Homo sapiens: one gene and its partners. The protein of the gene in region 4 interacts with the protein of the main gene of each other region in a pairwise test. Each region holds a gene or a part of one and is shown on either strand. Other genes may lie near its edges.

What was found.
Region 1: the proteins of UQCRH (region 4) and NDFIP1 interact in binary tests that used the Homo sapiens proteins (3 or more experiments, as listed by UniProt).
Region 2: the proteins of UQCRH (region 4) and RNF24 interact in binary tests that used the Homo sapiens proteins (3 or more experiments, as listed by UniProt).
Region 3: the proteins of UQCRH (region 4) and NDFIP2 interact in binary tests that used the Homo sapiens proteins (3 or more experiments, as listed by UniProt).

The regions. Positions count from the first base shown.
Region 1 is NC_000005.10:142,111,056-142,119,284, reverse strand, and holds part of NDFIP1 (NEDD4 family-interacting protein 1), read right to left. Parts: intron 1-8,229. UniProt on the Homo sapiens protein: Activates HECT domain-containing E3 ubiquitin-protein ligases, including NEDD4 and ITCH, and consequently modulates the stability of their targets. As a result, controls many cellular processes.
Region 2 is NC_000020.11:4,004,828-4,013,056, forward strand, and holds part of RNF24 (RING finger protein 24), read right to left. Parts: intron 1-8,229. UniProt on the Homo sapiens protein: May play a role in TRPCs intracellular trafficking.
Region 3 is NC_000013.11:79,475,754-79,484,510, reverse strand, and holds the start of NDFIP2 (NEDD4 family-interacting protein 2), read right to left. Parts: upstream 3,357-8,757; 5' UTR 3,308-3,356; coding exon 2,987-3,307; intron 1-2,986. UniProt on the Homo sapiens protein: Activates HECT domain-containing E3 ubiquitin-protein ligases, including ITCH, NEDD4, NEDD4L, SMURF2, WWP1 and WWP2, and consequently modulates the stability of their targets. As a result, may control many cellular processes.
Region 4 is NC_000001.11:46,312,753-46,317,560, reverse strand, and holds the end of UQCRH (cytochrome b-c1 complex subunit 6, mitochondrial isoform 1 precursor), read right to left. Parts: intron 1,010-4,808; coding exon 977-1,009; 3' UTR 785-976; downstream 1-784. UniProt on the Homo sapiens protein: Component of the ubiquinol-cytochrome c oxidoreductase, a multisubunit transmembrane complex that is part of the mitochondrial electron transport chain which drives oxidative phosphorylation.

The DNA of each region.
Region 1 (8,229 bases), on a different chromosome or scaffold from region 4:
ATCAGAACTGAAGAATGATGTAAATGGATGGTGGAAGTGAGCCAGGTTTCTCCATGTTGGAGTGGGAGTTTATAGATAAGGGGAGTAGGCTAGAGTGACCCATATGGTAACAAATTAGAGGTGGAGATATTAGTATGAACTTATGTTTAGCTTAATATAGATAGATGGTACATACAGAAATAGTTACAGATGTGTATACCCACAGGTTAATATACAGACATATATAGTTCCTTGCTCTGTCAGCTTAGAAGGCCTAAAAGCAATGACACCCTAGTAGCAAGGAGCACAGATCTTGGTTTGTAGTATTATTTTTCAATAAAAGGAACCTAGGCTCCTTGGAAAAATGCCTGATTCTAGGATAGTGCAGGAAATATATAAGATGAGCCTAGTGCCAAAAAGTATGGAAGTGGTTAAAAAAAAATCCACAATGATGGAGGTATGCAATTTAAGCAATAAAATAAAGCAGTTATTGGATAATTGGAAGAATAAAATAAATATTTATGAGTCTATACAGATATAAATACTAAACAAATTATCAGAGCAGAGACAAATGCCCCATGCAGGAAATTCCAAATAATTCATGTCAATACTTGGCCCTCAGCGAGGTGTTACATAACTCCCCACTCCTTATGTGTGGACCATGCATAGTGACTTCCTTCCCAAGAGTAAGTATGGAAAGTGGGGTAAAACGTATCTTTACAGAAGAGAAACCTGAGAAACACTACCTCAGCCAGGTGATCAAGGTCAATGTCAACAATGATAAGTCATGTTGAAAGTGTGCATTCTTGATATGATGTGATGAGAACAGCACTTTACCTGTGGTCTTCCCCCAAATCCACAGCCCCAGTCTAATCATGAGAAAAACATCAAACAAACCCCAATTGAGGGACATTCTACAAAGACCTGACCAATACTCCTCAAAACTGTCAAGCTCATCAAAAACAAGGAAAGTTTGAGAAACTCACAGCCAAGAAGAGCCTAAGGAGACAGGACGACTAAATGTAACATTACCACATTATATCATCCTGGATCCTGGATGGGATCCTGGAACAGAAAAAGGACATTAGGTAAAAACTTAGAAAATCTGAACAAAGTACAGACTTTAATTGATAACAATGTACTAATATTGGTTCAATAATTGTGAAAACCGTACCATACTGATATAAGATGCTAATAGGGAAAGCTGGGCATAGGGCATATGGAAACTCTCTACTGTCTTCTCAGTGTTTCTGAAAAATTAAAAATGTTTCAGCTGGGTGTGCTGGCGTGTGCCTGTGGTCCCAGCTACTTGGGAGGTCAGTGGGGGAATGATCGCTTGAGCCAAGGAGTTTGACGCCAGCCTGGGTAGCAACATAGCAGGAACCCATCTTAGGGGGAAAAAAGTTCCAAAAAGTAAAGTCTATTTGAAAGTACAGATTTATTTAAAAAACATTTAAAGCCAAGGAAAGGTTAAGAAGAAAGCCTGAAGATGGAGGGTTGCAGTGAGCCGAGACTATGTGGCTGCACTCCAGCCTGGGTGCAGAGTGAGGCCCTGTCTCAAAAAAAAAAAAAAAAAAGCCTGTAGAACACACACCAAACTTGAGGAGCAGTTACAGCTCTGCAAAGAGATAGGGAGGAAAGGGAAATCAAGTTTTTCTTTAGAAAGTTACTGTTTGAATCTAGCACATGAAGAATGTATTACTATTTAATACAAAATGCTTAATTTTAAATATCACATTTAAGCATCGAATGATAAAATGAAATCGGCCAGGCGCAGTGGCTCACACCTGTAATCCCAGCACTTTGGGAGATGGAGGCGGGTGGATCACGAGGTCAAGAGATCGAGACCATCTTGGCCAACATGGTGAAACCCCCTCTGCTAAAAATAGAAAAAATTAGCTGGGCGTGATAGCGGGCGCCTGTAGTCCCAGCTACTCAGGAGACTGAGGCAGGAGAATCACTTGAGCCCAGGAGGCGGAGGTTGCAGTGAGCTGAGATTTCGCCACTGCACTCCAGCCTGGCGACAGAGTGAGACTCCGTCTCAAAAAAAAAAAAAAAGCAAAAAAAGAAAATGAAATCATTATTAAACAGGCACCACTCCCTAAACCCTTATATCTCTATTCATAAATTGTCCAGTCTCCAGATAGACCTCCAAATTGTATTCAAGCCTTTGATTATGGTAAGTACTAATTAATATTGCTGAGATAAACTAATTTAAAAGACAAAAACAGAAAAATGGTCAAAGATTATGCTAAATTGCTCGGGGAGGGGGATAAGAAATATATTATACATATGGGCCGGGCACGGTGGCTCATGCCTGTAATCCCAGCACTTTGGGAGGCAGAGATGGGCAGATCACTTAAGGCCAGGAGTTCGAGACCAGCCTGGGCAACGTGGTGAAACCCCATCTCTACTAAAAATACAAAAATTAGCCAGGCGTGGTGGCATGCACCTGTAACACCAGCTACTTGGGAAGCTGAGGCACGAGAATCTCTTGAACCCAGGAGGCGGAGATTGCAGTGAGCAGAGCTCTCACCACTGCACTACAGCCTAGGTGACAGAACCAGACCCTGTCTCAAAAATAAATAAATAAATAAATAAAAAAGAAGAGGAGAGAAGAGAAAAGAAAAATACATATGAAGGTAGCCTGGGCATGGTGGCTCACACCTGTAATCTCTGTAAGCCAAGGTGGGTAGATCATTTGAAGTCAGGAGTTCGAGACTAGCCTGGCCAACATGGTGAAACCCCACCTCTACTAAAAATACAAAAATTAGCCGGGCCTGCTGGCGGGCACCTGTAGTCCCAGCTACTCCAGAGGCTGAGGCAGGAGAATGGCTTCAAACTGGAAGGCAGGGGTTGCAGTGTGCCAAGATTGCGCCACTGCACTCCAGCCTGGGGAACAGAGCAAGACTCTGTTGAAAGAAAGAAAGAAAGAGAGAGAGAGAGAGAGAGAAAGAAGGAAGGAAGGAAGGAAGGAAGGAAATAAATAAATAAATATACATATGAAGGGAACTGCATTAATAAGAAAATATTTCACTAGGAATGCTCTTAAACTTGATCAGTGCTAGTATTTAGGACATTTAATATAAATTATGTTATTCAGAAAAATCATGAGTAAGCCTTATTGTAACAGCAGGATGTGCTAAGTGATATCAAGTTACACTTGCTTTACTACCACTCTTGGTCAAGTTAACAAGACATATCATACAGTCATCCCTCAGTATCCACTGGGAATTGGTTCCAGGACTCCCCACAGATACCAAAATGGGAGGATGCACAAGCCTCTGACATAAAATGGTATAGTATTTACACATAACCTACCTCATGTACTTTAAATCATCTTTACTTATAACACTTAATACAATGTAAATGCTATGTAAAATAGCTGTTATAGTGTATATTTTACTTGCACTATTATTTATTATTGTATGGTTATTTTCCCCTATTTTCAATCTGCAGTTGGTTGAATCTGCGAATGTAGAACCTGTGGATACCCAGAGCCTACTCTAACTCATACCCCCACCTAGCCAACCACTAGAAGCAATTACCACTGGAAAGTATGTCAAGCCCAAAAAATTTCATACATGATGTTTGCCAGTTGCCTAGCTTATTGGCAACAATGACTTGAAAAAAAGATAAACCATCATGCCAATTTTCAGTATGAATGGAACAGAAGTATTAAAGTTGCTTTATCTAAATTGTCCATTATTATAAGAATATAGGCCGGGCGCAGTGGCTCACACCTGTAATCCCAGCACTTTGGGAGACCGAGGCGGGCAGATCACTTGAGGTCAGGAGTTCAAGACCAGCCTGGCCAACATGGTGAAACCCCATCTCTACGAAAAATACAAAAAATTAGCTGGGCGTGGTGGTGGGCACCTGTAATCCCAGCTACTCAGGAGGCTGAGGCAGGAGAATCGCTTGAACCTGGGAGGCGGAGGTTGCAGTGAGCCGAGATCGCGCCATTGCCTTCCAGCCTGAGCAAGAAGAAAGACACTCCATCTCAAAACAAACAAACAAAAAAGAATATAATTCTTCTAAGCTGTTGTACTTGCTTAAAGGTAAAACAAGAACATTTTAAGAAACCAAAATAATTATTTTAAAGCCCTAAAAACAAATAAATCTGAGGATGTCACTTGAATCTCTTGGAGACTTTTTTTCTTTCTTAATAAAAATATGAAGTTATTCTCATGGTAGGATTTACTTTATAATCTACCATAAAATTATGAAATATAATTAATGTCTAGGATAAAACAATTTGAAGTTATGTGCAGTTAAACTACTGGTGGCATCAGCTTAGAGCAAAATTCCCTAGAGCAGTTCAACTGGGCCTTGGTTTCTGCCCAAACCAGGAAGCACTGCCCTATTTTCAGGACACAGATAGTATGATTAAGCCAAATAAATCTTGCCTAACAAGTGGTCACCCATGGGATCAGGTAAGAAAACAAGGATAGATTAACAGGAATCTATCACTGCTACAAAAACAAAGCATGAGGCTTGGCAAGAGTGAGCCCAATCAATACAAAGGACAGTTAGTTATGGATCCACAGCCCGACACTGACAAATCCTGTTTCCATACTCCTCACAGATTACAAGAGAGCTCTCATGATATATTCCTCATGTGATATCTTCTTGAAATATCATACCATTTGTTTTCTTTTAGCGTTACACATAGAAATATTTATCAATATATGATTTCTAGGATTCGTTTCAAAATAATGTGGTGAGTATAAGTGAAATAATATTGGCCATTCATTCACAATTGCTGAAGCTGGGTGATGGTACATAAAATTTCTTACACTACTTTATTATTGTATGTGTTTGAAATTTCCATAGTAAAAAGTTGAAAATGTAAACATCATGAAGAAATTACTCCTACAACTCGACAACAAAAAACTCAATTCAAAAATGAACAAAGAACATGAATACACATTTTCTCTAAAGAAAATATCAATGGCCAATAAGCACATGAAAAGATGCTCAACATCGCTAATTATTAGGGAAATAGGGATCAATACTGCAATGAGATACCACTTCACACCCATTAGATGGCTACTATCAAAAAAACAAAAACAAAAAAGAGAACATAACAAGTATGTTGAGGATATGGAGAAATTGGAATCCTTATGCATTGTTGGTGGGAAAATAAAATGGTGAAGCTGCCATGGAAAACAGTATGGGAGTTTCTCGAAAACTTAAAAATAGAATTGCCGTATGACCCAGCAATTCCATTTCTGGGTATATCCAAAAGAACTGAAAGCAGGGACTTGAAAGATATTTGTAGACTCATGTTTTTTATAGCAGCATTACTCACAATGACCAAAAGGTAGAAGCAAACCAAGCATCCGTCAACAAATGAATGCATAAACAAAATGTGGTACATATATAAAATGGACTATTATTCAGCCTTAAAGAGGCAGGAAATTCTGACACATGCTACAACATGGATGAACTCTGAAGACATTATGCTAAGTGACATATGCCAGTCACAAAAGGACAAATCCTGTCTAATTCCACTTATGAGAGGTACCTACGGTAGTCAAATACATAGAAAGTAGAATGGTGGCTTCCAGGGGCTGGAGGAGGGGGAATGGAGAGTTATTGTTTAATGGATATGGAGTTTCAGTTCTGCAAGGTGACAAAGTTCTGGAGATGGACTGGTTCCACAACAATGTGAATGTACTTAATGCCACTAAACTGTATACTTAAAAGTGGTTAACATGGTAAATTTTATGTGTATTTTACCACAATTAAAGTTTTCAAAGGAATAATTTACCCATCTTCCTAATATTTTTATAAATTTTCTTTGATCACTGACCATGTAGGCCACAAATACAGCATATAACTTAAGAAACTTTGACATTTAGGTTATGTTGGCATTCTGTGATATAACTTCTTTTGAAACTGAAAAATAAGCAAAAAAGCCACATAAGCACTATTCATTCCTTCCTCCAGGATCATTACTTCATCTAATAATTTAACATGAATATGGTTTGACCTATCAGAGATGAAATTCTTATGCTCATCAAAATATTCCTCCATAATCCTGAGAGAATTTATCCAAAAGTATACCATTCCAAAATCTGCACTATAATGTCATCAAACTATCATACAGAGTATTGGTGATGCTCACAAGTGGGCAACTTCTTTAGCAGGTAATGAGGCAAGTCCAGAACTAAACATTCTGTAATCTGTTTGAACCTACATGGCAGTGTCATCATCACCCACTTACATTGAATTCAAATCCAAGTATCCCAAAATACTTGAAATGAATTGGCAAAATTCATGCACACATCTACCGCAGAAGATCTGCGTTCATCTATGGATGAACGGGAGTTAACGTCCTCAGAGAGAGAAACACGCAACAGGTTTCTCAGCACTCAGTATGGGCCTACTTAGGTCTTTCTAAAATAGTGCTTCCATACTGTCTGAGACAGTCTCAGTTTCAAAAGGCAAAAATGAAAAAAAAAATAAAATAATGCCAGGGGAACCTATAAGCCTAGCCTCTTTTTTTTTTTTTTGGACAGAGTCTCACTTCGTCGCCCAGCCTGGAGTGCAGTGGCGCGATCTCGGCTCACTGCAATCTTCACCTCCCGGGTTTCTCCTGCCTCAGCCTCCCGAGTAGCTGGGACTACTACAGGCACGTGCCACCACGCCCAACTAATTTTTTGTATTTTTAGTAGAGATGGGGTTTCACCATGTTAGCCAGGATGGTCTCGATCTCCTGACCTTGTGATCCGCCCACCTCGGTGCCTTTTTTTTTTTTTTTTTTTAAGACAGTCTTGCTCACCCAACCTGGAGTACAGTGGCGCGATCCCAGCCTACTGCAAACTCTGCCTCCTGGGTTCAAGTGATTTTCCTGCCTCAGCCTCCCAAGTAGCTGGAGTTACAGATGTGCACCACCACACCGTGCTTTTTTTTTTAAACAGAGTCTTGCTCTGTCGCCAGGCAGGAGTGCAGTGGCACGATCTCAGTTCACTGAAACATCTGCCTCCCAGGTTCAAGCGATTCTCCTGCCTCAGCCTCCTGAGTAGCTGGGACTACAGGTGCACGCCACCACGCCCAGCTAATTTTTGTATTTTTAATAGAGATGGGGTTTCACATGTTGGCCAGGATGGTCTCAATCTCTTGACCTCGTGATCTTTGTGATCTGCCTGCCTTGGCCTCCCAAAGTGCTGGGATTACAGGCATGAGCCACCTTGCCTGGCCATTTTTTGTTTTGTTTTGTTTTGGTTTTTTTTGAGACAGTCCCACTCTGTCACCCAGGCTGGGGTTCAGTGGCACAATCTTGGCTCACTGCAACTTCTGCCTCCCAGGTTCAAGCAATTCTCCTGCCTCAGCCTCCCAAGTAGCTGGGATTACAGGTGAGTGCCACCACACCTGGCTAATTTTTGTATTTTTAGTAGAGGCAAGGTTTTGCCATGTTGGCCAGGCTGGTCTCGAACTCCTGACCTCAAGTGATCCGCCCACCTCGGCCTCCCAAAGTGCTGTGATTACAGGTGTGAGCCACCACACCTGGTTGAGCCTACCCTTTCTGCATAGTCTGTCACTATGCTAAATTCAAGTTGTCCACATATTACACTACCAATAAAAAGACCATAAAGACAAAACTGTGTTTGCATTTATGAATGAATCATACAGTTTTCCATTACATTTACTTGGTGAGAAAACTAGCTCAATTTGATTAACCAGATCAAATAGAAGTCAGAACAGCCCTGTGTGACAACCAAAGAGTATCATGCTCCTATCAAGTTGCCTGGACAATTCACCATCATTCTATAATTCAAAAGCCTTTTAAAAATGCATATTCGCTGACCAGGCATTTCCATGGCTAGTAATTTATGCTAAGGAAACGGTTGAAGACGTATGTGAAATAAATTTCAATGAAAAAAACTGTAAACATTCTTAGTGACCAAAGATAAGCAATTAGTTAAATTATGATTCAGCCATACAATTACATGCCATGCAGACATTAAAAATATTTTATATAGAAGACATTAATAACATTGTGTGAAGAACATTACAAAATAGAATTATGAACCTATTTCATTATTTATCTAGCATGCCTTTGTAGATACATGTGCATGATACACATGTGCAAATGTATGAATGCACATGTCTGAGAACAAGATACACATGGACACGTGCAAAAGTATGTGCAAGTATGATCGGGGCTCATAAAACTGCACACAAATGTACAAAGATATGTCTGTATACGTATATATGGGTACATAAGAGAATACATATGCA
Region 2 (8,229 bases), on a different chromosome or scaffold from region 4:
TTAAGAAACTAATAAACCCCCTTTGCTCCATCTGATTCTGACAAGTCATTTTTATTTACTGCAGTAGCTCTGCAGGAGCATCAGAAGAGATTTAAAAAATATAGATTCTGCCCCCTACCCCAAATCTCTTCTTATTCTCCTGCTATTATCTGCAAAGATCTCTGCACTTCCATTATCAATAGCCCTCCAGAGGTGCCAGTACAGGATAACATCTGAATAGTAAAGAGACTGTATTCTTGTGAAAAGTTGATAACATCCACTGTGACAGGTGGTGGGCTCTAGAGGATGAAGGCCTAGGTTCAAAACTGGACCCTGAACTTGTAAACCTGAACAGGTTACTTCTTTGACATTTAGTTTGTCATCCATAAACAACTCTTTGAGGATTGCTGTAAGCAGTAAATAGGCAATATATTTAAAGCTACTGGCATAAAAGCTTTTTAGTGTAGGTTAACCAATATGAAAGATGATTTTCTGAGTATAATATTGCCCCTGGCTATTGATATACTGTTCTGTGATTTAAGAAAAAAAAAATCTTACTACGCCGAAAATTCCATCTGCCCTGTTTACAGAGATAATCGACAAGTTTGAGTAAAAGCCTTTATTTAATTATAGCCATGCATGAGATTTCCAACACATTTCTGAAGAAGTTTTGCAACTTGTTTCATGCTGAAGAAAATGAATGAAAGCCTACACCTTTGATTTCCCTTCCCACCCATTTCCCACAAACTACATTAACTCATAATTTGACGTTTCATTATCTGTCAACTTTTTTCATTCAGTCCAAGATAAAGAGACTATTTAGATATAATATTTAGGTTCTATTTCAAATTTATATCACTGAGCATAATTTCACATGCTCAGATTTGGGAAGGAACAATAAAGAGATACAGGTAGCTATAATTTTTTTTTGGTTTGCCAAGATGAACTTAATAAACTTAACAGATACTGCAGCACCATTCAATCTGCACATTTGAAAAAAAAATTAAGGCAACATAAAGCATACTGATAGACAGCAGTGAAACTATTAATTTTGAGAATTCAATAAACACTGTCATCAAATGAACTGAATGCTCATTATTCTTACAGTATGATATTTGCACTTATTTTGCTGTCAATTAAACAATTATGATATTAAATCTGCTAAAGGAAGTGAAGAACTGTATCTGATACAAGCACCTGTCTAATCGGGAAAACATAAGTACCATCAAAATGAGAGACAAGCTAAGACTACATACATAATTAACCTTCTATAGAATCTATGGTTTATGGCTAGGTGTGGTGGCTCACATTTGTAATCCCCGCACTCTAGGAGGCTGAGGCGGGTAGAACACCTGAGGTCAAGACCAGCCTGGCCAACATGGTGAAACCCTGTCTCTACTAAAAATACAAAAATTAGCTGAGTGTGGTGGCGCATGCCTGTAATCCTAGCTACTTGGGAGGCTGAGGCAGAAGAATCGCTTGAACCCAGGAGGCAGAGGTTGCGGTGAGCAGAAAGAGCACCACTGCACTCCAGCCTGGGTGACAGAGCAAGTCTCTGTCTCAAAAAAAAAAAAAAGTCTATGGTTTACACAGGAGCAAGCTTTACAACAAGATGGAAAAATTTTCCTAATTCAAATGATCAAAACTTTAGAAGATGACAACAAAAGGAACGGGCAAACCTCACTTTAAGAAAAGTTGACAAATAAAAACAGGAACTTTAAAAGCAGGTAACCTGGAAGTTACTTACAATATAAAAACATTCACTACAGTTCATTGCAACTTTAATACACCTAACAGTAGTGAATCCATAAAAATTCAAATTACATTAAATTTCCAGAGCAAATTTGTAACACGAGGTTCACTTGTAACATTATCTAAATAGCAGTTTCCTTTCCCTTGCCACTGCAGGCTTTCTCCAACTCCCTGGGGTACTATGGAGGGCCAGTGCAACTCTCTGGTATCAGACTATCCTTAGGGCACATGGAGGGCCCAGGCCAGCTTTCCCAAGAGTGGCCAGCCAAAAGCAAGGCCACTGGCCAGCTATTCTTGGGCCAGCTGGCATGGAACAAAGTGTCTGGTTCCTACCTCCAAAGCACAGGAGGCTCTGCCAGCTGGCTTTCAAAGGACTGCACTAGTTGGAATGCTCACAGTTCCTTTCAAACCATCTGGCATTCTTTTAGAACCCTCAATTTACCCAACACTACATTCTGAGATTTGAATTGCTCAGATAATTGAAGGAGTCCCCACTACCTACCTAGGTAAGAAAAGAAAGAGGCAGAGCAAACGCTAAGTCAATTACTTCAAGAAACAGTTTCTACAACTAAAAACTGCTCTCAAGTTTAGCTTGTATATTTTGTATTTTAAAATCTAAAATATTCCCATGATTATTAAGCAAACTTTCAAAGTAAAAACCAAGACAAGTAATAAGAGAATAAGCTAAAACAGACTATTTAACATGCAGAAAAGCTGTAGGAATCCCTTAGGGTTAGAAGTACCTGACTCTCCCTAGCCTGAACTTCTACAGAGCCTGTCTGTATTTTTTATGTGGTCCTCAGAATATACTTCGTACTGCTACATATATTTACCCTCCCAGCTAGCTAGTAGATGAAAAGAACATTGTCTTATAGCTGTTTCAAAAGAAAAAAAAATCTGTTGATGATATATTGGGTGTTTTTAAAGCTCCATTTCCAGAAATAAGAAAACTTAATGTGGAATAACATGAAGAAAGAACCTCACCTCTGAGAAAACCAAATAAACAAAGAACAGGACTTGGCTTGAAATAAAAATATTTTATCAAGTGATCAAAATGATTTATTGGCTGGGCATGGTGGCTCCTGCCTGTAATCCTAGCACTTTGGGAGGTGCTGGTAGGGTCACTTGAGCCCAGGAGTTTGAGACCAGCCTGGGCAACATAGTGAGACCCTGTCTCTACAAAAAAAAAAAAAAAAAAAGAAAAAAAATTAGCCTGGCATGCTGGTGTGTGCCTGTGGTCGCAGCTACTTGGGAGGTTGAGGTGGGAGGATTGTTTGAGCCCTGGAGGTTAAGGCTGCAGTGAGTTGGAGATCACACCACTGCACTGCAGCCTGGGCGACAGAACAAGACTCTCTCTCTTAAAAACAAACACACCCCCGCCCCCCACAAAACCAAGAACAGCTGAATCATCATATTGATAGCCCATATACCCTAGGAGATATAGTATTTTGAACAAAAATATTATAGAGACCAAGTCAGAGTCAAATATTATAAACTGGAGGAGGCTATAATAATTACTATTATTTTTCATTGAGTTTACTCCCAAGACGAGTACTGAGTTTCGTGTTTTACATATTATCTCATTTGGAACACAAAACAAACACATGAGGTAGGAACTATTATTAACCACATTACAAATGAAGAAAGAGAGAGGTTAGGAAACCTGCTGGAGGTCACATAGCAAAAAGTGAAAGAGCTGGAATTCAACTCCAAGCAGTCTGATGCCAGAGTCCAGGTGCAAGACTGCAAATATATATATATATTATATATATAATATATATATTATACATGTAATATGTATAATATATATATTATATATATAATATATATATTATATATGTAATATGTATAATATATATATTATATATAATATATAATATGTATAATATATATAATATATAATATATAATATGTATAATATATAATATAATATAATATATATATTATACATATTATATATTATATATATATTATTTATATATATTATATATATATATATTTTTTTTTGAGACAGAGTCTCGCTCTGTCACCCAGGCTGGAGTGCAATGGCACAATCTTGGCTCACTGCAACCTCCACCTCCCAGGTTCAAGCAATTCTCTGTCTCAGCCTCCCGAGTAACTGGGATTACAGGCACCCGCCACCACACCCGGCTAATTTGTTGTATTTTTAGTAAGATGGGGTTTCACCATCTTGGCCAGGCTGGTCTTGAACTCCTGACCTCATGATCCACCCGCCTTGACCTCCCAAAGTGCTGGGATTACAGGCATAAGCCACCATGCCCGGCCCAAGACTGCCAATATTAAGTCATACTTATGAAAGAATGAAATGTAACATAGGGCAAAATTTGATCATTAATATATTCTTCATAATTGTTTCAATTCTTAAGTGTAGCAAAAAATGGTGAGTAATTAAAAAACATGGATTCTCTTGTTAGAAATTTTTAAAAATCAAAAGCTATTTTACCAGGTCAGTTGTGCCTCTTTTGCCCATGTACTGAGTAGACACTTGTGCCACCTGCTGTCCTAGGGGACAGAGTGGTAAACAGGACAGATGAGGTCCTTGCCTTCCTGGAGCTGACCTTCTATTAGGGGTAAGTCACACAAAAATTATTAAACAACAGAATTTCAGAGGGTGGTACGTACTATAGAGGAGGTAGGGAAGGCACGTAAACTTCTCTTTTGAGAGACTTAACCATGTAGGTAAATAGAAAGGGATAGAGGAGGGTCAGGGAAAAGTTGTTTGCTGAAGCTTATTCTGATTTTAAAGATGGGCAACGTCACGGCATATGTGTATGCTGACATGGATAGCCCCCTGGAGAGTTGCTGATGATGCAAGAGAGAGGGCAAAAATGCTAAAGCTGTGAGATATGAGGGGGCATGAGGTATAGAAGATGTGAGGAGGAACACAGTAGAAAGGGGAGCTTGCCTCCGACAGGAGACAGAAAACATGGGTCTAAGGAAGGCAGATTTCTACATTTGGTTGGGGGGAAGATGAGTGGTTTCTGTCTGATATCTCCTAAACCCTCAATGAACTATGAGGTCAGCTTATCTGAGTAGGAGGGGTGGGTTGCTGATAAGTTTAAGGAGTGGAGAGAAGTTATGAAATAGTGATAGGCAAAAAGATCTTATTAAGATTCAATGGTAGCTTTGCCGGGCAGTGCTGAGTGTCTACTTCGGATTTTTGGTCATGAATCTGAAGTTCTCTTGTAATATCCAGCCACTTGGGTGGTGTCATGGAAAAGCCAAATGAATGATAAAGCAGCTATAAATAGAAAAAAAAGGGTTTTTAATTTTAAAATTTTTAAAGAGTAAACAAAGGATGTTTTAAAAATATGTATCCAAATTAGCCAGGCATGGTGGCGGGCACCTGTAATCCCAGCAACTGGGGAGGCTGAGGCAGGAGAATCGCTTGAACCTGGGAGGCAGAGGTCGAAGTGAGCCGAGATCACGCCACTGCACTCCAGCCTGGGTGAAAGAGTGAGACCCTGTCACAAACAAACAAACAAACAAACAAACAAACAAACAAACAAACAAGGCCAGATGCGGTGGCTCATGCCTGCAATCCCAGCACTTTGGGAGGCTGAGGTAGGCAGATCACGAGGTCAGGATTTCGAGACCAGCCTGACCAACATAGTGAAACCCCGTCTCCACCAGAAATACAAAAATTAGCTGGACATGGTGGCGCACGCCTGTAGTCCCAGCTACTCGGGAGGCTGAGGCAGGAGAATTGCTTGAACCCGGGAAGCAGAGGTTGTGGTGAGCCGAGATTGCACCACTGTACTCCAGCCTAGGTGACAGAGTGAGACTCCATCTCAAAATAATAATAATAATATGTATCCATGAGATAAACACAAAAATACTGACAATGTTCTGTGAAGCTGTGATTTATGCAGCTCCTTTTGCTTCCATCTTCTCATCACAGAAATTCTTGCAAACAATATATTTGTCACATTTAATAATGACATATTTAATCATGAAGCTCAAGTTAGTTTCTTTTTGGTCATTTCTTTTTTTGTCATTTCCTAAGGTGGATTTTTAAAAAATGCACCTGACAGCCGTCATGTTGGTTCATTTCACTGCTTAAAAGAAACTCTCTCTGATGTCAATTGATATTTTCATTGTTGATTTCATTTAAAAGTAAAAAAACTTAATCCCCTCTCTCAATGAACACATACACATCTACAGTGCTTAATCTCAATGCCTAAACAGTGGTCACAAGGAAAATGGGAAGGGAGATGCTGGCCTGATGGCGCTGGGCACCTAGCAGTGCCAGGTGCATGTTCTTGATCTTGCAGCTGTGCTCTTAAAACACAATGCTCAAGATCCAAAACGTTCGGGGGAGAATTCCTGTCTGCACAGGTTCAAGAGGAGGAAACAAAGACCCCACTGCTTGATGGAGGCACAAAGAATAGCATATTGGGTGAGATGGGGGGAGTATGCACACACATACATATACAGCCTTTTTGGAAAATACAATCTACCCCACAAGCAAAAGTAAAGAAAAATATCTATTCCAAGGTACATCATGAAATGTCAGGAACACCAGGGATAAACTGAAGATCCTAAAATCTTTCAGAGTGGGAAGAAAAAGGGAATGAGGATTAAAATGACATTGGACTTCTCAATAGTGACACTGGAAGCTAATGGAACAATGTCTTCAAAACAGTCACATTAATTTTCAATCCAGATTTTAACACCAAGCTAAACTACCATTCAAGAGTGAAGGTAAAATGAAGGCATTTCCAGACATGTAACTTCTGAATTCAGGAAGGAATTTCAGATTTTGTATGTACCCTTTCTCAGGAAGCTACTCAAGAATAAGGAAGACACAGGGTCCAGGAAATAGAAGACCTAACACAGGAGGAAGGCAAAGGGAATTCCCAAGATGATGACAAAGGGAAGTCCCAGGATGATGGCTATGCAGTAGTCCAGGGAGCAAACAATTCCAGACTGGAGTAGGAGAGAGGGGGCTCCAGCAGGACCATCTCCTGGGGAAAAGATATGAAAGTGAGTGACTACCTGAGAATATTCAAAGATAATCAGTTTTGTCATAGAGTTTGAATGAATTAGTGACTGATACAAAGAAAACTCAGCAAATGAAAACCAAACAAACAAAAGAGGCAATTATTTAATTCAGGAGCAACAAAAGTTGTTCAAGAAGAAAACACAGTAATAGCACCCTACGTGGCTCAACTGTGAATAACAGGTACACTGTCAGTCATATAAATCCTGAATACCGACCTAACTGTCAAGTATGAGTGGGAAATGGAAGGATAGTTATGTGAGACAGTTAAGTCTTCAACTTCCAAAATAGAAGTCCACAGAGAATATCCAAAAGTGAAGAGCTAAGAAATAGCAGTATAAACATTAAAAATGAAATAAGTATAAAGGTAAATACCAAAAGAAACCAGTAAGAGTTGAGAGTGGTTTAACTATATAATATATAAGACTGCTGATTTTGATTTTTTCTCAGTCTCAACATGGCAATTTCATATGATTCAAGCTAACACATTGTAATAGCATTATTACTGATCTTAGAATAAACTCCCATTTAAAACAATAAACAATTATTGGCCGGGCGCGGTGGCTCACACCTATAATCACAGCACTTTGGGAGGCTAAGGCAGGCAGATGGCTTGAGGCCAGGAGCTCAAGACCAGTCTGGCCAACATGGCAAAACTCCGTCTCTACTAAAAATACAAAAAAAAATTAGCCAGGCGTGGTGGCCAGTGCCTGTATTCCCAGCTATTCGGGAAGCTGAGGCATGAGAATCACTTGAACCTGGGAGACGGAGGCTGCAGTCAGCCGAGATCACGCCACTGCACTCCAGCCTAGGGGACAGGGTGAGACTCCATCTCAAAAAAAAAAAACAACAAAACACCCAAAAAACAAAAAAGCAATTATTGATAGAGAATGCTCAATGGAAAAATAAATTACTTTTTATTATGAGACATTACTGGGAGGATAATAGATCCTAGTTAACAAAGTGTTACCATCTATGCTCTTACCATCACTAACATAATATTACTATTCTAATGAATAAATATTTACTATTAAAACAGCACTTAACATTATTTTATCTATTTTAAGGATCTAAAAGTTAGTTTAGATTTTTTCTTCAATCATCATACTACAGAATGCTAAACTATGGGTTGGCAAATACTTTGATTAACAGAATGCTGAATAACAAGGCCAGGCTGTGTTTAGGTTCCTTTGTTGATATTAAAAATAGCTAAGTCACTCTTGCAAAATTAAACTTCCATGAAATTGCGATACTGTGCAAGCTTATTTCAGTGATAATTCCGGTTATGCTACTCTGTTTATCTAAGACTTCCCCTTACGGTTTGTTTTAAGGAGACTCCTAAAAAATGTCTTATGCAGTCAAGACAGGCAGTTTATAAATGTACTGGGTTACTTCAACATTAGTGACTTTAGTTAGTAAAGCTCTTGTTTTTTTTTTTCTGCTTCATTTTTCCTTCATAAAAGCCTTGTTTTAAA
Region 3 (8,757 bases), on a different chromosome or scaffold from region 4:
ATGGTTTTAATATGCTAATGTATTATAAATCTTCCAGTTACACTTACTATCATTCTGAAATACAGTTTGGGAAATTACTGCTACAATCAACACTGCCAATTTAACTTGTACACAGAATAAGAAGTCAGCTTGGTACAGGTACAATCTTAGAAGTCAGCTTGGTACAGGTACATAATCCTTTAAAATAGAGAACTTTGGCCGGGCTCTGTGGCTCACACCTGTAATCCCAGCACTTTGAGAGGCCAAGGCGGGCAGATTATTTGAGGTCAGGAGTTCGAGACCAGCCTGGCCAACATGCTGAAACCCCATCTCTACTAAAATACAAAAATTAGCCAGGTGTGGTGCACCACACTTGTAGTCCCAGTGACTCAGGAGGCTGAGGCAGGAAAATCACTTGAACCCAGGAGGCGGATGTTGCAGTGAGCCGAGATCACGCCACTGCACTCCAGCCTGAGTGACAGACACTCCATCTCAAAAAATAAAAATAAATAAATAAATAAATAATAAAATAACGAACATCAAAGTTAGAATGTGGTCTAGCAGCTGCAAGCCAAGTCAACTTCGTCATAGTTAGCAACACTGCTCATTTACTAACAAACAAAACTGAATTTCCCATAAAATTACGTGTCATACCTGGCTTTTTCTGAAATTAGAAGGGTAACAATCAAGAATTTTTGTAGCTCTAAACTGTTATCCACTGCTTTACTCAATAAATTTTGGATGCTTTTAACAATGAAAGGAAAGAAGAGATCACAGAAAAAGCAGTTTCTAGATAAAGCTTGTGCATTGGCTAATGGTAGTAAGTCCTTCTGATGACCCTGAGCATCACTGCTAGCTTTCCAGTATGAAAAGCTGTTTTTAAACTCTTTAAGTAAGTGAAAAATTAACATTGCATACCATCTCACCCCTAAGTATACTTGCCTATCTCCTGACTTAGTCATCCCTTAACATTCAACAACTCAAGTGGTTTATTGCTCCAGTTTATTAAGCATTCCAGTTTTCCCAAAAACTGAGCTAAAGGCAACCACAAAATAGTTGTGTTCATCATATAAGCCAGAGCTGAAGACTGATCCCTAGTTTAAAAAGTCTATTGAAAATGTCAATTCAGCTTTTTCTCTGGCATACACTGATGTTATTAATCAGGCCATTATAAACAAAACCAAGAGTTATACTAGATAGGTTAAATGACTACGTAAATTGTGTAACTCTAACACTAACATTGCCTTACAATGTTAGTTGTAAGTTGCCTTACAAGGAGAACAGATCGATGTCCTACCTAAAGTACTACCTTTAGAGGGACTGGTAGGCTTTATCTTTAGAAGAACTGATTTTTGCCCTCTGTTCTCAAGGAACATTCAAAGTCTATGTAGGACACATCGTCAGTTTGAAAAAAACGAGGGGAGGGGGCAGCAATAAAATATGCCCATTTATTTTGAAAGGAGTTGTTGGGAAAACAAATATCTTAAAACTGAGAGCTACATAAATTAACAGTGTTTTGGGTAGTGACGTCTGTAGGAAAAATGAAACAAGTTTCACTGCTGATATTATTCAATATTTATATCATTTTATTTTTGCTAACATTTACAAACCTAGAAATGCCTTTCAAACCATCAAAAGGGTGTACACTGACAACTTGAAAAACGCTTTCCATACTGGGAGAAACAGTATTTCCCAAGTTGTTGAGAAAAGCTGATAAATTTTCAAAGAATTCGGAATATGGACCTTTTGTAGGTTTTAAGGAATGCAAACCAATTGAAAATGGAAGCCTCATGAGCTTTTATCTTAGAAAAATGCAAAATTACATACTTTAGGATCTCATCTTACAGTTCCTTCATATTTGCCAAAATGTACTTATTAATAGAAAGTCTTGGCTTATAACCTGTCTTACATGTGCAAATAGATTTGAAAGTTGAAACCTGGGACTAACATACCTAAATTTGTAAAATTTTATAAACCATAAACTGCATCACCAGTGCTATGTATTGTTTTTCTCCTCTCCCTCAGTAAATGGGCTGAAAGTTTGTAGAATGACATGCTACCTAGCTGCAACAGCACAACAGCAGAGTCAACTATTGCTCAGTCCATCTTTAACTAAGGTTTACAACAGGAATCTCCAACGTCACCACCAGAATACACAAAGAAAAATATATTTAAAAATTGACACTGAAAATATAGAGGAACACATTTCACTTTTTTCAACATAGTTACCAAAGTTTACACAGTTAAGCTGGAAAACCTTGTATTTAACGAAAAATAATTTTTCAAACAAGATTAGAATTTGTTCTACTAAAACTACCTCTGTTTCCCCTCTAACCAAAAAAAAAAAAAAAAAAAAAAAAAAGAAAGAAAGAAAGAAAGAAAAAGTGGGGATTACCAAAAAATACAGTCATTTTTAATACTAACATAATGGAAAAGGACAAAATGACAAGGTTAACGAGCAGAGAGACAAGATCAGCATTATGGCTAGTCTTTCTCTACAGTTCCACAATTCCTAACCCACATTTTTGCCAAATCCACATCCCACCCCACGCAGTACTTACACCTCCACCCACCTACTCACCCACCCCATTTATGACGGCGATCACCTTCCGGGCAGGTATGTGAAGTCAGCCCCATTTCCAGTAGACAATCGACTAGAATGTCTCAGGAGTGACTGAGTCAGAGAATAAGAAAATGATAAAGTGAGAAATTAAAACGGATACAAGTTGTAAGGTGTGTGGAGGGAGGGCGTCTCACAGCGGGGCTAAGGGTGCGGGTGAGGAGCTAAGCAGACTTGGGGCGAGAGAGAAGGGTTTCGAAGGAGTCCTAGGCAGGAGTGCGCAGGTGAGGCGAGTGAAGCAGCTCCAGCCAGAAGATCCAAAAAAACAAAACAAAACACAACAAAAAAAAGCCACAGCTTTTCCTCCGGGAATAACCTGAGGAAAGGGACTCTCGGGACGCCGCGGCGGGAGGCAGTCCCGGGAGGCACAGGAGGCCGGGAACTCACCACCTGGTAGCGCCCAGTCCCCGGCTGGTGGTGATCCATCCTGCCCGGCTCGGGATCCGGCTTCCGAGAGAGGGAGTCTTCTCCGTGCTCAGCTCCCACGGCCACCCCCGTCGACGACGTCGTCGCCGCAGGGCCCCTTCCGCCTCCGTTCCTGCAGCCGCGGTCTCCCGGCGGAAGCTCTTCACTTCCTGTGGCTCCCGCAGCGGCCGCCGAGACCTCCGCGTTGGTCGCGGTTCCGCGGAGAAGCTCCGGGGCGCCGCGCGCGCTATTGAGCATGCTCGGACCGCTCGCGCAGACTCGCTGGCTCCGCCGGCGTGCCATCCGCGCCGCCAGTGGGAGGGTATAGCTGGGTGGGAGGAGATGGAAAAGTAAGGCAAGTCCGGGGGAGCTGTCTAGGTTGTCAACCTGTCGAGTGGGCGGTCGCAAAAGGCGCGCGGGGGGCGGGAATGACCCGTCCTTGATTGGTCTTTTCTGTGTGCGCGAGTTTCGCGCAGGCACGAGCCAGTGCGCCTTCTCACCACACAGAGACAGAGGCTGACAAGGGATGGGGCCGCGTTCCTAGAACACCTGAGGACAGGTCGCCCGGGTACCCGACACTTCCTCACCCAGCGTAGGACATGGGGAGGAGATTCATCTCTAGAACATTCCCAAAACGCTTATTCAAAATCATTCGTAAGATAAGCGATTTTTTAAAGACTAATATAGAGTAGTTAGAGTTTACAGAAAAATTGAGAAGTTACAGAGATATCCCATATACACTTGGCTCCTACGCATGCATAACCCCCCACCATTATCAACATCCCCCCTCAGAGTGGTACATGTGTTACGACTGATGAACCTGCATTGACACCTCATCATCACTCAAAGTCCATAGTTACCTCAGGGTTCACTCAGGTTGTTGTATACTCCTCGAGTTAGAACAAATGTGTAATGGCAGGTATCCATCATTATAGTATCCTACAGAGTATTTCCACTGCCCTGAAATTCTTCTGTGGGGTAATTTTTGTTTTTGTTTGTTGTTTTTTTAGAGATGGGGTCTCACTATATTGCCCAGACTGGAGTGCAGTGGCTGTTAGCAGGCGCAGTCATGGCTCACTGTAGCCTCGAACTCCTCGGCCCAAGCTATCCACCTGCCTCAGCCTCTGGAGTAGCTGAGACTACAGGCACTAGCTCTTTGGTTACTTTTTAAACTCTTTTTTCCACTTTTTGGTAATAAGAGATTTAAAAATCCAACGGACTCTCCAGACAACTCTCAAAGAAAGAGGTCTCTAGAGTTCTAGGTTACTGGAAGGACGTTAGAAGAAAGTAATGAAATCAGATAGGATTATTTTGTGGTAATACTCAATAATTCCAATTGATTTAACAGCAAGGAATCACTTGGGAGCACTGTTAGTAGTATCTCACTGTCTGGTTAACCACACATGACACGGCATAAAGCATATTTCTCTAGCAAGTAGAAGAGTATGACAGAGCAGCGAAAAGTACCTTTTAACCTGAAGACCAACGTTCTATACCCTAAAAACTATGATGCTGCTTGATGTGGCCCAGCTATGTTTTTAACATAACACCACATTTTCCCTAAATGATCTTACAGTGGAGCGCCCTGAAGGGAAGGAAAGGGATCTGGAGCCCCATTTATTTCCTTCATGAATGTCCAGAGGAGATCCTTGAAATGAAGACTGCCACTGGGTGAGCCTAATCAACTGGTTAAAATAGCAAGATAGAATAAAAACAGAAACTCTTTGAGAGATTGACAACTAAAAAATGTAAGCCTTCCTCATAGTTCTTTTTAAAGCATTCATCAACTCTTCCTATTTGTGCCGTTTTGACATGTCTAATAGCATAAAGCATTACTGTGCTAACAATAAGAGGCAGTGATATCTCATACTTAAATATTGTTAAACTTGCCTTGTTTTGATCTTAATGTATTTTAGTTTCTAAGCCAATAAACATATGCCATTTTATTGGTATTACTGGTACAAACGCTCACTCTCACAATTTCACTCCAAATGGTATTGCCTCTCGATGACCAAAACAACAGCCAGTATCAGCAAACTGAAATTAGATCCTTATATCACTTACGATCTATAAGATTTATTTAGAACTTAATTTTATATGCATATGTGTTTTCATTAATCATTCATGTGTTCATCTGTTTCTCAAATAGATGGCTGCTCAGGGCAGAGACCATTTCTTACACCCAATGCAGCACTGAGAACATAAAAGTAAAAATCAAAGATCTGACCAAAAGCAGACATCTTGAATCCTGATAGAGTAACAGATTCTTTCTATTTTACCCTCCTCCCAGATTCTCTGAACATTTTGCTAATCTAGTGGAGTAACAAATTCAGCAGGAAAGCGTATTTGTAATGAGGAAGAGAAAGAGGGGAAGGAGAAGTAGAACAACAGCTTACTAGTATAGAGCCCTTTCTAAGCCAGTACTATACATCTATTATTTTAGCCTCACCAGAACTTCATGATATAGGCACAGTTGCACTCCTTGGTTAACAGATGAGGGGGGAAAATAAGGCACAAGGAGTTTCATGAACTTGGCTAATGCCAAATCACTAGTAGGTGATGACAGACATCAGAGCCTCCACCATATTAAGCACTATATTAAGCATAATGCACCTAATAAAGAAGAGTCCTTGTCTCTTTCCTCTTCCTAGCCACCACTACTGTGAAACGTGCAGAAGACATAAAAAGATAGCAATGTATCACAAAGAGCCAATCTGACTTCTTTAAATCCCACCTTCTTGATCTATGTAAAATAATAATTCTTATTCATCATCCCCAAAAGAGCCATTCTGAGCTTCTTTTGCCCACTTTACAACTAAGCCCATGTGACCTGTAATGGACCATTACAAGCAGAGGCACTGAGTTGTCCCACTAGGAGAAACTTACTTGAGATGCAGTGGGAATAACAATATTCTTTACCATTTTACAGACCTTAAGCAACATCCAATAATATTTTCAATCCCTGGTATTATGGCGACAACTCTAGTTATCTAAGGAATTTGCAGTGGTGCAGCACTAGAAGCTACCTCAAGTAGAATTGTAGAATTTTAGTGCACTTCACTAACACCTCTCATTCTGGCTTGATCAATTTTCATCTCCAAACACACAGCCACCCAAAATTTTACTAGTGCTGCTCTGCAGTACTGGAGTAGACATGGAGATAAGCTGCCCAGATTCCCTTTCAAGAAAGCACACTCTGCCCAGCTGGAAGGAATGTGGCTGTCAGACAACTTCCAATTGGTAGCTTTGTCAGGGTCTCCCTCAGCTTTCAACCTGAGGAGGTGCTATTTTCAGGGTGGCACCCAGCCACTAACTGAGCAAGGCAGTGGTACAAGGCTCTGGCTATTTTTGCCAGACACTGAAGCCCTTAAAGGGACAAACTTTCAGAGTTCCCTGTGAAGCTGGCAGAGACTTTTTCAGCTCTGCAGCATGTTGCGACAGCTCCCCCTGCCCAGTCCTTTTTATTTTAACAGACATTGCTCCGCAGTGAATCTCTTGCACTGAAAACTTTATATCAGCATCTGCATCCCGGAGAACCCAACTAAGACAAGTACCAATATGTACAGTGATAGAGCAGTATTATCAAAATTGTGTTAGATAATTACAACTATCATTTTACATGGTTGGTGTTTCATCTTCAGAATAACCCTCAGGACTCTACATTGTTAGCATTTTCTCATGTGGATGTAATGTATCTGTAAGCCTTCCTACTAAGAATGATTTTGATGTTGTTCTATAGTGTGATGCTATATAGAGTTCATGGGGACCTCTTTGCCTGAGGCGTACTTCCCGTTGGGAACCCCTCCCACCTTCCCAGAAGCAGGGCCATTCCCTCTAGAGGTAAACTAGCAACTTAACATTCATCATCCTCTTTCTTATATCGTCAGATATATTGAGCTGCACACCCAAATGCCAGGATTCTTCGTTGGGAGTCCCACCAGTTAAAGAGCAGTAAGACATGCCATTGCCTACAGAAAGCCGTCTACACAGGCCTAAATCACAGGGAGGCGATGTTCCAAATTTTCCTTACCACTTCACTGATTTTTAGTTTTTTATCACTTCCTCTACCACAAAGAACTACTCAAAGTGGCTATTGATGGTTAGTGTGATCACAGATCTTAGTAATGAATTGCATTTGGAATATGTGTGGTTTTTGTATAATTACCTGTAGAATGACTGGAAAGAGGTAAAATTACATTATCTGAAAATTTCTATTTCTACCTAATGAAAATTCACTAGCAATCATTTTCTGGACATTAAATTCTAAAGCATATTTTAGAAATATAAGAAACTATTGCTTTTCACATATAAATGAAAATTAACACAATAATGACTCCAGTTTTATCTCTGAATCTTTTATAATGTATATATATCTTTTAATCAGTTTGTAGGCTTGAACCTCAGTTTAGCTACACATAGTGTTTCTTATTTAACTGGTTCTGAGATTCCGTCATCTGTTCAGCTCTATAATTTTAGAGAGGATATCTAAGTGAGCAATTTTACAAACAAGTATCTACTTCTTTTTCCTCTCTTTATTCTCCTCCAGTATGTTGAAAGAATCTGAAATAAAACTTTTTATCAGTCAAGATTCAACTAGAGAAACAGAGTCAGCAGAAGACATATCCTAAGAGATTTATTGCAAGGAATTGGCTTACACAGTTCTGTGGGCTGGTCCAGCAAGTCCGGAATCCAGAGGACAGACCCCTGTAACTCTAGGGTTGGAGCTGAAGCTGCTGTCTACAGGCAGAATTTCTTCTTCCTCAGGGAATCCTCAGTTCTGCTCTTAAGTACATTTAACTGACTCAATCAGACCCACCCAGATTATTGAGGATAATCTTCTTTACTTAAAGTCAACTGATTCAAGACTTTAATTACATCTATTAAATCACCACAATGCCTATGTGAGTGTTTGAATAATTAGGGCTGTAATCTAACCAAGTTAATAGAGAGAACTGACATTCCCTGTTTATTTAAATACAACAAACTAATATAGTATCTATATAGTAAAGATAAAAGATAGAGGAAGGAACAGGAGAAAGGAATGAAGTACCAGAGAGTTACCTTAGAAATTTAAATGAATTTCCTAAATTTAAGTTTTCCTATCAGCCTTATATAATACATATATATGATGGCATCACCAGTAAACACTTGGAAAAGATCTGAATTCTGATAAGCTGCATCTCAGTCCTAACAATATTTTTATTTAGCATTTTCATTTTTCCTTTGTTTGGTAATAGGCAACAAATGTGAGCAAATCAGTAGCCATTTTGCTTTGGGGAATTCATATTTGAACTTAGAATAACTCATAAGTTATTAAAATAATCTTTGCTTTACCTTAGGTATGGAAGGCTGTTCTCTGACCATGCTAAAGCAGGACTTTCTATGTTGTCATCTCCTTTTTACTCTGTAAGCCATAGAAGAGCAGCACTGTCACTGAGGATAGGGCTGTTATGACAGGTGTCCCTTAACTGGCTAATGTGATTATTGTATAAGAAGACAAACACTGTGTGTGTGTGTGTGTGTGTGTGTGGTGTGTGTGTGTCTGTATGTGTAAAATATTAGGAAAGAGAAATGTCTCCTACACATCCAGATCTTCTTAACATGTTAATGTGCATTTGCTCTTTTTCTTTCATAACAGAAACCAGGCCTCATTTGTTTAACACAGTCTAATGTCAGTACACTGCTTCACCATTAGCAACATATTCTGATACAACAATAAGGTCACTATATAAGAAAGTTGCCTGATTTCCGCC
Region 4 (4,808 bases):
CTCTGAAAGGGTTGGGATTACAGGTATAAGCCACCGTGCCAGGCCCAGCCCTCATGAAGACATACATACTTGCTAGGTGATGGGTACATCTATTCTTATGTGTTTAAAAATTGTGGTCTATGTGTGGTGGCTCATGCCTATAATCCCAGCACTTTGGGAGGCTGAGGCAGGAGGATTGCTTGAGGCCAGAGTTCAAGACCAGCCTGGACACAGAGAGATGCCATCTCTAGAAAATATATATTTTTTATTTTATTTTTTGAGACGGAGTCTCGCTCTGTTGCCCAGCCTGGAGTGCAGTGGCGCGATCTTGGCTCACTGCAACTTCTGCCTCCCGGGTTCAAGCAATTCTCCCGCCTAAGCCTCCTGAGTAGCTAGAACTACAGGTGCCCGCCACCATGCCCAGCTAATATTCTTATTTTTAGTAGAGACGGGGTTTCACCATGTTGGTCAGGCTGGTCTCGAACCCCTGACCTCGTGATCCACCCGCCTCGGCCTCCCAAAGTGCTGGGATTACAGGTGTGAGCCACCGCGCCCGGCCCAAAATATTTTTAAAATTAGCTGGGCATGGTGATGCATGCTGTAGTCCCAGCAACTTGGGGCCACGGTGAGAGGGTCAGTTGAGCCCAGGAAGTGGAGGCTGCAATGAGCTGTTTGCGCCACTGCATTCCAGCCTAGCCAACAAAGTAAGACCCTGTCCTCCTTGCCGCTCCCCACCCCCTCAAAACTAAAAGAAAATATCAAATTAAAAAAAAAAATTCTCAATTAAAAAAAAAAGACGGGCAGGTTTGCAGATCATAGAACTTTTATTTAGATGGAATCATTGCGAATTACATAGAAGCTACCAGCCTAAGCCAAACCCATGAGGTTCATGTGAACTTACAGTTACACAAATAAGAAACAAATGGTACATCCAAAACCATAAGGAAATATTCTGATGCCCAGATGATGAAGACTGGGGTGAATTAAGTCCACACATTTATTTCAAGTTGTTAAAGAGTTTGTGGGCCACCTAGATGGGGGAAAGAAAAGGAGGTAATCAATTGGCAGCTTTAATGTCATGGCTTACAAGGTCCTTCAAGACCTGAAACAGTACTGCCCCTCTTCTCACCACTCCCCTTCTCACATAGGCAAGCAGCACTTGAGTCCTAGTGAACTCCCCACTTTTTTCATCTTTTATTCTTCCTTTAGAATTTAGATCTGATAACTGTCATTTCCTGCAAGCCTTCTCTAAACAAGCCCCTATCCACACACAAATCTGTCCCTCCTATCTTTCCACAAAAACTTGTACCTCCCCATCAGTGACATTAACATTACATATTAATTCAACAGGACATCTCCTATATGCCAGGTAGTGTTCTAAGTGCTGAGTGAGTTATAACTGTAACAAAACATGCCTGCCACTTAAGAAACTTACAGGGTAATGAGTTAAAATGAACACATAAATAAGGTAACCTGTGATAATGGGAAATGCTAGGAGGAAAATAAATGGGAGGCGGGGCGGGGGGTTCAGTTAATATTACCCTGAGAAAGGTATACCTGAGAGACTTACCAAAGTTTAGCACTTGTTCTACTTCTGTTTCCTATGCTGGCTCATAAACTCAGTGAAGGAATGAACCATGTCTATCTTACTCCCAGATCCTAAACCAGTGCTTGGCTGACAAATATATGTAAATATTTTTAGAATGACCACACAGTGGGAGGGGGAAAATCAACAGTAGGGATGTTAATTCAGGGAACAGATCATGACTTGCCTATTTTGAACATTTCATACAAATCATATCATACGATATTTTTTACTTTGTGACTGGCTTTTTCCCCTTAGCATTTAGCATGTTTGCAAGGTTTATCCAGGTTGTAGCATGTTCAGTACTTATTTTGTTAAAAATTATGATAAAATACATCTAACATAAAATTTTCCACTTCAGTAATTTTTTTTTTCTATTTTAATCTTTTTTTTTTTTTTTTTTTTGAGGCAGTCTTGCTCTGTCCCCCAGGCTGGAGTGCAGTGGTACAATCTTGGCTCACTGCAACCTCCGCCTCCCGGGTTCAAGTGATTCTCCTGCCTCAGACTCCTGAGTAGCTGGGATTACAAGTGTGCGCCACCACACTCAGCTAATTTTTTTTTTTGAGACAGAGTTTCACTCTTGTTGCCCAGGCTGGAGTGCAATGGCTCACCGCAACCTCTGCCTCCCAGGTTCAAGCGATTCTCCTGCCTCAGCCTCCCTAGTAGCTGGGATTATAGGCATGTGCCACCACGCCCGGCTAATTTTGTATTTTTAGTAGAGACGGTGTTTCTCCATGTTGGTCAGGCTGGTCTCGAACTCCCGACCTCAGGTGATCCACGTGCCTCAGCCTCTGAAAGTGCTGGGATTACAGGCGTGAGCCACCGCACCTGGCCTACACTCAGCTAATTTTTTATTTTAGTAGAGACAAGGTTTCACCATGTTGTCCGAGGTGGTCTCAAACTCCTGACCTCAAGTGACATGCCTGCCTTGGCCTCCCAAAGTGTAGGAGGTGTGAACCACCGCACAAGGCCCCACTTTAATCATTTTTAACTGTACATTTCTGTGGCAGTTAAGTGCATTCCCATTGTTCTACAACCATACAGTCCCCTACAATCTCTAGAACGTCCAATCTTGGGACCTTTTTCATCTTACTAAATCAAAACTATATCCATTAAACAGTAACTCTCCATTTCCTTTCTCCCCTCAGCTCCTGGTTACTACCATTCTACTTTCTGTCTCTATGAATGTGACTGCTATTCTAGGTACCTCACCAAAGTGGAACAATACAATGTTTGTCTTCCTTGACACTTAGTTTAATGTCTCCAAGGTTCATCAATGTTGCAGCACGTGTCAGAGTTTCCCTCCTTTTTTTTTTTTTTTTTGAGACGGAGTTTTGCTCTTGTTGCCCAGGGTGGAGTGCAATGGCGCAACTTTGGCTCACCGCAGCCTCCACCTCCGGGGTTCAAGCAATTCTCCTGTCTCAGCCTCCCGAGTAGCTGGGATTACAGGCGCATATACCACCATGCGCAGCCAATTTTTGTGTTTTTAGTAGAGACGGGGTTTCATCATATTGGTCAAGCTGGTCTCGAACTCCGGACAGCAGGTGATCCACTTGCCTCGGCCTCCCAAAAAGCTGGGATTACAGGCATGAGCTGCTATGCCCAGCCCCTTCTCTTTTTTTTTTTTTTTTTGAGACGGAGTCTTGCTCTGTACCCAGGCTGAAGTGCAGTGGCGTGATCTCAGCTCACTGCAAGCTCCGCCTCCCGGGTTCATGCCAATCTCCTGCCTCAGCCTCCCAAGTAGCTGGTTCTACAAGCACCCGCCACCATGCCCGGCTAATCTTTTGTATTTTGAGACAGGGTTTTACCGTGTTAGCCAGGATAGTCTCAATCTCCTGACCTTGTGATCCGCCTGCCTTGGCCTCCCAAAGTGTTGGGATTACAGGCATGAGCCACCGTGCCCCGGCCCCCTTCTCTTTTAAGGCTGAATAATATCCCATTGTATATACAAAGCACATTTTAAAAAAATCTTTGCATCTATGGATGGAAAATTGGGTTGTTTCTACCTTTTGGCTATTGTGAATATGAATGTGGAAATATCTGTTTAAGCCTACTCTCAATACTTCTGGGTATATACCTAGAAGTGAAATTGCTAGATCATATAGTACATAATTCTATGTTTAATTTTTGAGAAAAGAACTTGTTTTTTTTTTTTTGAGACAGGGTCTCAGTCTGTCACCCAGGCTGGAGTGCAGTGGCGTGATCATGGCTCACTGAAGCCTTGACTTCCCCAGGCTCAGGTGATCCTCCCACCTCAGCCTCCCAAGTAGCTAGGACTACAGGTGTGAGCCAGCTTGCCTGGTTATCTATATCTATCTATCTATCTATCTATCTATCTATCTATCTATCTATCTGTCTATATTTTTTTGAGATGAAGTCTCGCTCTGTCGCCCAGGCTGGAGTGCAGTGGCACAATCTCAGCTCACTGCAAGCTCCGCCTCCCGGGTTCACGCCATTCTCCAGCCTCAGCCTCCCAAGTAGCTGGGACTACAGGCGCCCGCCACCACGCCCGGCTAATTTTTTTGTATTTTTAGTAGAGATGGGGTTTCACCATATTGGCCAGGCTGGTCTCGATCTCCTGACCTCATGATCCACCCGCCTCCGCCTCCCAAAGGGCTGGGATTACAGGCGTGAGCCACCGCGCCCGGCTTTTATATATATATTTTTTGTAAAGACAGGGTTTTACCATGTTGCCCAGGCTGGTCTCAAATTCCTGGGCTCAGGTGATCTGCCTGCCTTGACCTCGCAAAGTTCTGCGATTACAAGCATGAGCCACAGTGCCCAGCCTAGCTGATGGACACTTATGTTGTTTCCACTTTTTGGGTAGTATAAATAATGCTTCTATGAACATTTGTGTACAAGTTTTTATGTGAACATATGTTTTCATTTCTCTTGGGTATATATCTTCGAGTGTAATTGCTGTGTCATATATTAACTGTATATTTAGCCTTTTGAGGAACTGCCAGATGTTTTCCACAGTGGCTGTACCAATTTACACTTTTACTGACAGCGTATGAGGTTTCCAACTTTTCCACATTGTCGTCAACACTCGTTATCTTCTTTATTATAGCCATCCTAGTGGGCAGTTGGTATAAAGTGTTATCTCATGGTAGTATCCCTGGTGGCTAATGATGTTGAACATCTTTTCATACGTTTACTGGCCATCCAATTAGTTTTAATAGAAGCAACCACATCAAACTTTGCTTATGTATAATTTATGTAAAATACCTTACTGTGTTATATG